Regions from separate parts of the Homo sapiens genome. Here region 2 is linked to region 1. Evidence: fine-mapped expression QTL. A gene starts in region 1. The other region holds a variant in brackets. All regions are shown on one strand. Distances are between the middles of the regions. Region 1 holds the start of PDSS2 (decaprenyl diphosphate synthase subunit 2). Region 2 overlaps PDSS2 (decaprenyl diphosphate synthase subunit 2).

What was found. PIP is the estimated chance that this variant, and not a neighbour inherited with it, causes the effect. A credible set is the group of variants that fine-mapping cannot tell apart.
Region 2: its variant is the best candidate, but not a certain one, in a credible set for the expression of PDSS2 in liver (GTEx, PIP 0.73).

Annotation. Positions count from the first base shown.
Region 1 is chr6:107,457,020-107,461,413 of GRCh38, reverse strand. It overlaps PDSS2 (decaprenyl diphosphate synthase subunit 2), which reads left to right and starts at 1,850. Exons shown (of 8, transcript NM_020381.4): 1 at 1,850-2,424. The coding sequence starts at 2,129. RefSeq lists enhancers at 888-1,809, 1,530-1,979.
Region 2 is chr6:107,186,986-107,191,379 of GRCh38, reverse strand. All of the region lies in intron 7 of PDSS2 (decaprenyl diphosphate synthase subunit 2), which reads left to right. Among named protein-coding and RNA genes, the nearest start is that of BEND3, 74 kb to the right of the region's middle. The variant T/C (reference allele first, on the strand shown) is at 1,999.

The sequences.
Region 1 (4,394 bases):
CCTGAATTTTGTTGCCAAGAGTTTATCTCTTTCACAGGAATTATTTTCAAACTTCAGCTTACTTACTTTAAGGGCATAGACTGTGTTTGATACTTATAATCACAATTCATGTTAAATAAAATGTGCCCCTGAAAAGTTACACCTAAACTGAATTTTTGTAAATAAAAAATTTAAATCACAAGGAAAACTTGCCAAAGGGAGAGTATGAAGCTAAATCTTTTGTAGAGAAAATCATCTTGTTTTGCAAAGTGAACAACTACTCTTTAAGTCCCAATCTTTATTTGTAGCTCAAGAGGCTGGTACAGTATTATGCATGATGCTCATTTAAAAAATACTGACAGGCTGGGCATGGTAGCTGGTAGCTCACACCTGTAATCCCAGCACTTTGGGAAGCCGAAGTGGGCGGATCACTCGAGGTCAGGAGTTTGAGACCAGCCTGGTCAACATGGTGAAACCCAGTCTCTACTAAAAATACAAAAGTTAGCCGGGCGTGGTGGCAGGCGCCTGTAGTCCCAGCCACTTGGGAGGCTGAGGCACAAGAATTGCTTGAAACTGGGAGGCGGAGGTTGCAGTGAGCTGAAATCGCGCCGCTGTACTCCAGCTTGGGTGACAGAGCAAGACCCATCTCAAAAAATAAATAAAAAATAAAAATAAAATACCATGAATTTGGAAGGATTTTGAAAGTTTTAGAGAGTTTTATAAGCTATTTTTAAGAGTGTAAAAAATGGATAATATATCCTTTATTAAGAACGGTTAACACCTGTTTTAGGTGATAAGAAAGGAGGTAAGATCTTAGGCACATTTGAAAAAAAAATAGGTAGCATTACTTAAAAGATAATCATATTGACTGTTTCCTCTCAGCAATAAGGAGAAAAGAGTGGATGGGAGCCTATTATTTAGACGGTGTAATCTTTCGGTTAGAATACGGATTCTGAAACCAGATTGTCTGGGCTCACATCCCTGTCTAGTGTGGTCTTAGGGAACTTACGCGACTCGACTGCACCTTAGTTTCCTCATACAAAACACGGAGAATACTAATATTATCTACTTAATGAGGTTGTTCTGAGGATTAAATAAAGTAATACATGAACTAGTACGTGAAAAGCACTCCGGTCAGCGATAGTCTTCAATCCTGGAGTTGAGCTCCAGGCTAGGCATAAAGAGGAAGATAAGAGGCAGGGAGTAGGCAACGTTTCATTCTTCCTCTCCGCACCCGCGGGAAGGAGGCACCGCTGTTTCTCCCAAGGCTCAGCGAGGAGGCCGGTAATTCGAAGTTGGATCCGAGGACTTTCCTTGGGACCCCTTTCCGCCGCACCACGCTGCCTTATGTCTGGTTGGGCCCTGAGGACACGAGGGCTCAGCCCCACGCCCCGACTAGGCGTTCCACCACTGAGACGTGGCCCCAGCTCCAGGAGGCATGCAGCCCGAGAGGCCGCCTTCACGCCCGGCCACGGCCACTGCCACTGCCAGGGGCTGGTGGCGATAGCGACAAAAAGCTTCCGGGAGGAACTGGTGCCTCCGCCCGACGCCCTTCCTTGCGGGCAAGCCGGGGGCTGACCGTTGTTCGTGACACCAATACTTATGCATGCCACTCAGTGCTGGGCGCCGGGGACTCTAATGAATCCAGACTCGGCCCAGATACCGTGTGCAGAGGGACCACTCGCCGCCCACAACTGATCCCTGTCACTGACGACCTTTGCTGGCCCAGAGCGGCGGGGTGGGAGGAGCTGAACCTCCCAACCCGGGTTCACCTCCAAAGCACCGCCCCTGCGGGGGCGTTCTCGGGTACGCCGTAAAGTAGAGAGTATACTTAACAACCCGCCTCTGTCTTTACGGCAGGCCGCATTCCATGCCTCCAATATGGCGTCCTCCACATAGGCAGTGGCTGTGGTTTCTACCCCGGGTGGCCGGGGGCAGTGCTGAGCTGGGACTGTTGTTTGCCCAGCCTGGGCTGCAGAAAGCAGCAGTTAAAGTTCGTTTCTGGTCACTGCTCCAGGAAGCCACCTTACTCTGAGGGTCAAGAATTGCCGCTTCCTTTTAGTTACTGTAAGTTCCTCCTCTGCCCCTGGTTTGTTTCCCGCGGCACTTCTGGATACCCCCAGGTCCCAGACCCTTCCAGACTCAAACCATGAACTTTCGGCAGCTGCTGTTGCACTTGCCACGTTATCTTGGAGCCTCGGGTTCCCCGCGTCGCCTGTGGTGGTCCCCGTCCCTCGACACCATCTCCTCGGTGGGCTCTTGGCGTGGTCGGTCCTCCAAGTCCCCGGCCCACTGGAATCAGGTAGTGTCAGAGGCGGAGAAGATCGTGGGGTACCCCACGTCCTTCATGAGCCTTCGCTGCCTGCTGAGCGACGAGCTCAGCAACATCGCTATGCAGGTGCGGAAGCTGGTGGGCACTCAGCACCCTCTGCTTACCACAGCCAGGTGAGCTACCCCTCTCCCGCTGACACACTCGCACTCATTGGAATACTTTTTTTTCTGGCGGGCATACGCATTCTAGCTCTCTCAGACTGGCTCCTGATTTATCTCTTTTTAGTCCTTCCTTTTTACTCACTCCTCCTAGACATTCCGTGTTGTCTCTTCTCTAGTCCACTTAACGTTCTTGCTCAGCTGAGTGCATAAGTGGTTTTCTTTGAAACACTTGTATGCTTTCCTCGATTTTGCTTCTTAATTGTTGAGGATGAAGATGCCTCAGTGATTTGTGGAGAAATCGAGCGGAGATGTAGGTTTATTGAGTCACTTCCTAGAAATTTTTTTTTTTTTTAATGGGATAGATTAATTTTCTGTCCCGCACTGTTCAGGGGGTCACCTCCAGAAAGTAGGCAAGGAGAGAGAGAGAGGCTGAAGGTAGATAATTCTTTCCAACGAATGTCTTGGGGTTGAAGTAGGAATTTATCCCGTTAGTAGTCATTATCTTCTTGGGATGTTTATCACTTATGCTGTACTACTGCTGTGAAACCTGCCTTTAGGATTTATAAAAGTTTTTTTTTTTTTTTTTTTTGAGACGGAGTCTCGCTTTGTCGCCCAGGCGGGAGTAGCTGGGACTACAGGTGCCCGCCACCACGTCCGGCTAATTTTGTTTTTGTATTTTTAGTAGATACGGGGTTTCACCGTGTTAGCCAGGATCGTCTCAATCTCCTGACCTCGTGATCCACCCGCCTCGGCCTCCCAAAGTGCTGGGATTACAGGCGTGAGCCACCGTGCCCGGCCAAAAGTTTTTTTTTTTTCTTCCACTTAAACCCCACACCTGAATTGTAATTAGTTTAAACATACAGCGAAGTTACAAAAATAATATAGTTCAAAGAACACACTTGCATACTCTTTAATCAGATCCACCTGCTACGTAGATATGTCTATATATGTCAATATATACATTAAATACATATACACACAGATATATATACTATTCACGTGTATATATCTTTCTATATATTTTTTTCTGAATCATTTGATGGTAGATTGCATACATCACGATCCTTTTCCCCTAAATACTTCAGTATGTATTTCCTAAGCATAGCAGTAATCTCCTACGTAAGTACGCTACAGTTACCAACTTAGGTATATTTAATATTGATACAATACTTTTATTTAATCTACCATTTAATTTCAATTTTGTTAATTGGCCTAATAATGTTCTTTATAGCATTCTTTACCCTCCAGGACAGGATTCAGTCCAGGATCAAGTATTGCGTTTAGTTGTTATATCTCTTTCATCTTCTTCAATTAGGAACATTTTCATATCTCTTCTTGGCTTTTATGACTAGAGCACTGGTTCTCAACTGGGGCAATTTTCCCCCCCTGAGGACATTTGGCATGTATGGAGACATTTTTGGTTGTCACGAATGGAGGCACATTACTGGCATTTAGTGGATAGAGGCCAGGGATGCTACCCTTCAATTCCCAGGACAGACCCACAAGAAATAATTAGGTGCTGCAAAATGTCAGTAGTGCCAAGGTGGAGAAATCCAGGACTAAAAGGACCTTTTTCTATTGTTGTTTTTAAAAGTAAACTTCTATTTTGAAGTAGTTTTAGATTTACATGCAGTTGGAAGAAATAACACAAATCTAATATACACCTAACCCTGTTTCTCCCAATGGTAACATCTTTTGAAACGATGGTGTAATATCATAAGCAGGGTATTTATGTTGATACAGTTAAGATAAAGAACATATTCAGCACTATAAGGATTCCTCATGTTGCTTTTTTAGCCACACTCACTTCCCTTACCCACCCCTTGCTTTAATTTTTCGAGGCACCTGTCATTTTCTTACTACAAAAGTTATCAAATAGTAATAATAAAGTGATTTTATTCCTTGGCATCGTTCCCAGTTATCAGGAATGTCACCTTATGATTAGCTGGAATGTTAGTTTTCCAGAGATTCTAGATGATACA
Region 2 (4,394 bases), 270 kb after region 1:
TCCAACTCCTCCTCTTGGTCTCTCTTCCATTCCTCGTGCTCATAGTCTCTTCATCTGAACACTGAAAAACCTACTGCTCAGTCTCCACTGCCTCTCTTTTGTCCCCACAGATCTTTACCAGCCAGAGTGGCTGTCTAAACCACCAATCTGACCGTTTCTCTCTCCAGCTTAAAACCCTTCATTGCTCTAGGCCGGGCACGGTGGCTCACACCTGTAATCCCAGCACTTTGGGAGGTGGAGGCGGGCGGATCACGAAGTCAGGAGATCGAGACCATCCTGGCTAACACGGTGAAACCCCGTCTCGACTAAAAATACAAAAAATTAGCTGGGCATGGTGGCGGGCGCCTGTAGTCCCAGCTACTTGGGAGGCTGAGGCAGGAGAATGGTGTGAACCCAGGAGGCGGAGCTTGCAGTGAGCCGAGATCACGCCACTGCACTCCAGCCTGGGCGACAGAGCAAGACTCCGTCTCAAAAAAAAACCCCTTCATTGCTCTGTGTTGTCTATCCGGCACATTCGGAGCTTGCTGGGTTGGCATATACGGGGCTGTGTGATCTCTCCCCTAAAGAGACCCTCCAGCTTCATCTCCCATGGTCCTGCAGCAGCACCAAGTTTCATAAAGCATACTGCTTCTGTTCTCTGCGCCTTCACTCATGCTGTCCCCTCTGCTTAGAATGTCCTGCCGTCTTTATCTGGCTCCCTCTGCTCATCCTATGAAGCTTAATTTGGGATTGTCTCCTATAGCAAATCCTCTGTGGTTTCCCAGGCTGGATTAGGTGCTTTCCTCAGTTCCTCAATACACTGTGCATTTCTCAGTCACTGCTCTTACTCTGTTATATTATAATGATCCATTTATGAGACTGATCCTAGACTGTGAGCTCTTGGAGGGCAGAGACAGTTTCTTTTTTCTCTTAGTATATCTGGTACCCAACACAGTACTTGACACTTAGTAAGTGACGAGTGAATGAGCAAGTAAGCGAGTGAACAGAGGCCATGAGTAAGAAAATAGAAAACACACGCAGTAAGTTGGGGAGAAGCAACCTGCTGCAGGAGAAAATCGGGGGATAGGGCATTGGTTCTCAAGGCAGAGAGGAAAGGAAAGCGTTTGACACAGTTTGAGGATATCAGCAGGGTTAAGAAGATTGCTTAGGAAGGTTGTAGTAAACTAGTTTGAAGATAAAGACTGGGATTTTTACTGTGGTAGTGACAGAAAGCTAACATATGAATAAAAAGATAAGGGAAAAGAGTGACAATTGAACATTGATGCTTATTTTGGTTATTTTTGTTTTTTTTTTTTAGAGATAGGGTCTCACTCTGTCACTCAGGCTGGAGTGCAGTGTCACAATCATAGCTTACTGCAGCCTCCCACTCCTGGGCTCAAATGATCCTCTTGCCTCAGACTCCCAGGTAACTAGGACTACAGATATGTGTCACCACACCCGGCTATTTTTTTTTATTTGTTTCTTTCTTTCTTTATTTATTTAATTTTAAGGAACGAGGTCTCGCTGTTACCCAGACTGGTGATGCTTTTTTTATGACTCAAAGAATGCCTCTGGGGTTTCTTATCACAGAAGCACTTGACAATGGAAGAGATTTCCACTGGAAAATGGCAAAGAGAAAAATATGGTGCACAAATAAGAGCACCCCTGGACCAAGCAATGGCTCTGCCACCAACTCAATGCAAAATCTGGTAACAGTCACTGTGTTAGTCTTTTCTTGCCGTGCAATAAAAAATACCTGGCTGGGGCCGGGCACAGTGGCTCACACCTGTAATCGCAGCACTTTGGGAGGCCATGGGGGTGGACCACCTGAGGTTAGGAGTTTGAGACCAGCCTGATCAACATGGTGAAACCCCGTCCCTACTAAAAACACAAAAATTAGCCGGGTGTGGTAGCACGTGCCTGTAATCCTAGCTACTCGGGAGGCTGAGGCAGGAGAATTGCTTGAACCCCAGTGGCACAGGTTGCAGTGAGCCAAGGTCATGTCTTTGCATTCCAGCC[T/C]GGACAACAGAGCAAGACTCTGTCTAAAAAAATAAAAAGAAAAAAAATATATGTCTGGGTATAGTGGCCAACACTTTGGGAAGCCAAGGCAGGAGCACTTGAGCTCAGGAGTTCGAGACCAGCCTGGGTAATATGGCAAAATCCTGTCTCTAAAAAAAATACAAAAATTAGCCAGATATGTTGGTGCACACTCATACTCCCAGCTACTCAGGAGGCTGAGGTGGGAGGATTGCTTGAGCCTGAGAGGCAGAGGTTGCAGTCAGCTGAGATTGTGTCACTGCACTCCGTGCTAAAAATATTAAAAAATAGCTAGGTATGGTGGTGCACACCTATAGTCCTGGCTACTCAGGAGCCTGAGGTAGAGGATCACCTGACCCCAGGAAGTTGAGGCTGCAGTGAGTTGTGATCACGCCACTGTACACCAGCCTGGGCAACGGGAGTGAGAGTGAGACCCTGTCTCAAAAAAAATGAAAAAGAAAAGAGGTTTAATTGGCTTATGGTTCTGCAGGTATACGAGAAGCATAGTGCTGACATCTACTTCTGGTTAGGCTTCTGGTGAGCTTAGAATCATGGCACATGGCAAAGGGTATTGGGCATGTCACCTAGCAAGAGAGGGGAGGTGCCACACACTTTTAAACAACCAGATCATGCATGAGCTCACTGAGTGAGAACTCACTCGTCACCAAGGGCATGGCACTAAGCCATTCATGAGGGATCAGACCCCCTGACCCAAACACCTCCCGCTAGGCCCACCTCCAACAATGGAGGCCACTTTTCAACATGAGATTTGGAGGGGATAAAACATCCAAACCAAATTGTTCACTTAATCTCTTTGGTCTTTTCTTAGTTTCCTCAGTGCAGAACGAGCAGTTTAGAGTAGTGCTGTTCTATTCCCTAGGCCCATTCTAAATCTGGGAGGAGACATTCTTATCCTGAGGTCCAGACACACTCCTTCACCCAACCGACATTTATTTATTTTTAAATTTAAATTTTTTTTTTTTTTGAGACAGGGTCTCACTCTGTCACCCAAATTGGAGTGCAGTGGCACAACCTTAGCTCACTGAAACTTCCGCTTCCTGGGGTCAAGTGATTCTCCAGCCTCAGCCTCCCAAGTAGCTGGAACTACAAGTGCAAGCCACCAATGCGCAGCTAATTTTTGTATTTTTTGTAGAGATGGGGTTTTACCACATTGCTCAGGCTGGTCTCGAACTCCTGAACTCAAAGCGATCTGCCCGCCTCAGCCTCCCAGAGTGCTGGGATTCCAGGCATGAGCTACCTCACCCAGCCTTTATTTGATGTTAATATATTGGAGGCACTATGCTAGTGCCAAGACAACCATCATGAACACGACTGCCAGGGTTTGCCATCACAAGCTCCCTTGACTCCAGCTTCCCTATCTAAAGTAGCCACTCCACCTTTGCTCTGTTTTTTTCTCCTTAACATTTATCATAACATAAAATTATCAGTTTGTATTTAAGTGCATGTTTATTTCTTCTTCCACTAGCATGTAAAAGATCTAACGGCAGGTGCTTCGGTGGCCTTGCTCATGGTTGCATCACCCTCCCTAGCACAGGCTTACATAGGAGTGCTTGACAAACATGTGTGCATGAGTATTACATTCGTGTTATGTTAGGAGACGTACAGGAGGTTAGGAGAGGTCTGGGATCGAGGACCGTAGACTCAAATTAGTCATTTTAAGAGGTTTTTTTTTTTTTTTGAGATGGAGTTTCACTCTTGTTGCCCAGGCTGGAGTGCAATGGCACAATCTCGGCTCACTGCAACCTCTGCCTCCTGGGTTCAAGCAATCTCCTACCTCAGCCTCCTGAGTAGCTGGGATTATAGGCATGCGCCACCACACCCAGCTAATTTTTGTATTTTTAGTAGAGATGGGGTTTCTCCATGTTGGTCAGGCTGGTCTCAAACTCCCGACCTCAGGTGATCTGCCCACCTCGGCCTCCCAAAGTGTTGGAATTACAGGCGTGAGCCACCACACCGGGCCTTAAGAGTATATTGACTGTGTAATACATTCCATCCCAAAGTTGCCTAAGGTTGTCTTTTCAAGTGCCCAGTAATAGTATTTCTCATGCCAGTAAATAGAAACCCACCCCTCCTTGAATATGTAGTGCTATTCTGATATTTAAAGACATAACTCGATTTAGGTAGTTAATCCAGACCTGTCAGCCTTAAACAGACTTAAATCCAAGTAACATAGAGAAGAAAGATTATATCTTTCTCTACTAAGTCTTGGGGAGATGTCTGCAGTATTATGCCTTATGCAGTATGTTATGGACTCTTGGCAATGCATCTCATGACCTAAAGTCTACTCCTCCCTGCTTTGTGTGCTCTGCTTTTTGTGGTCATGATGTTCAGGCTAATATAGGCATCACACTTAGTGG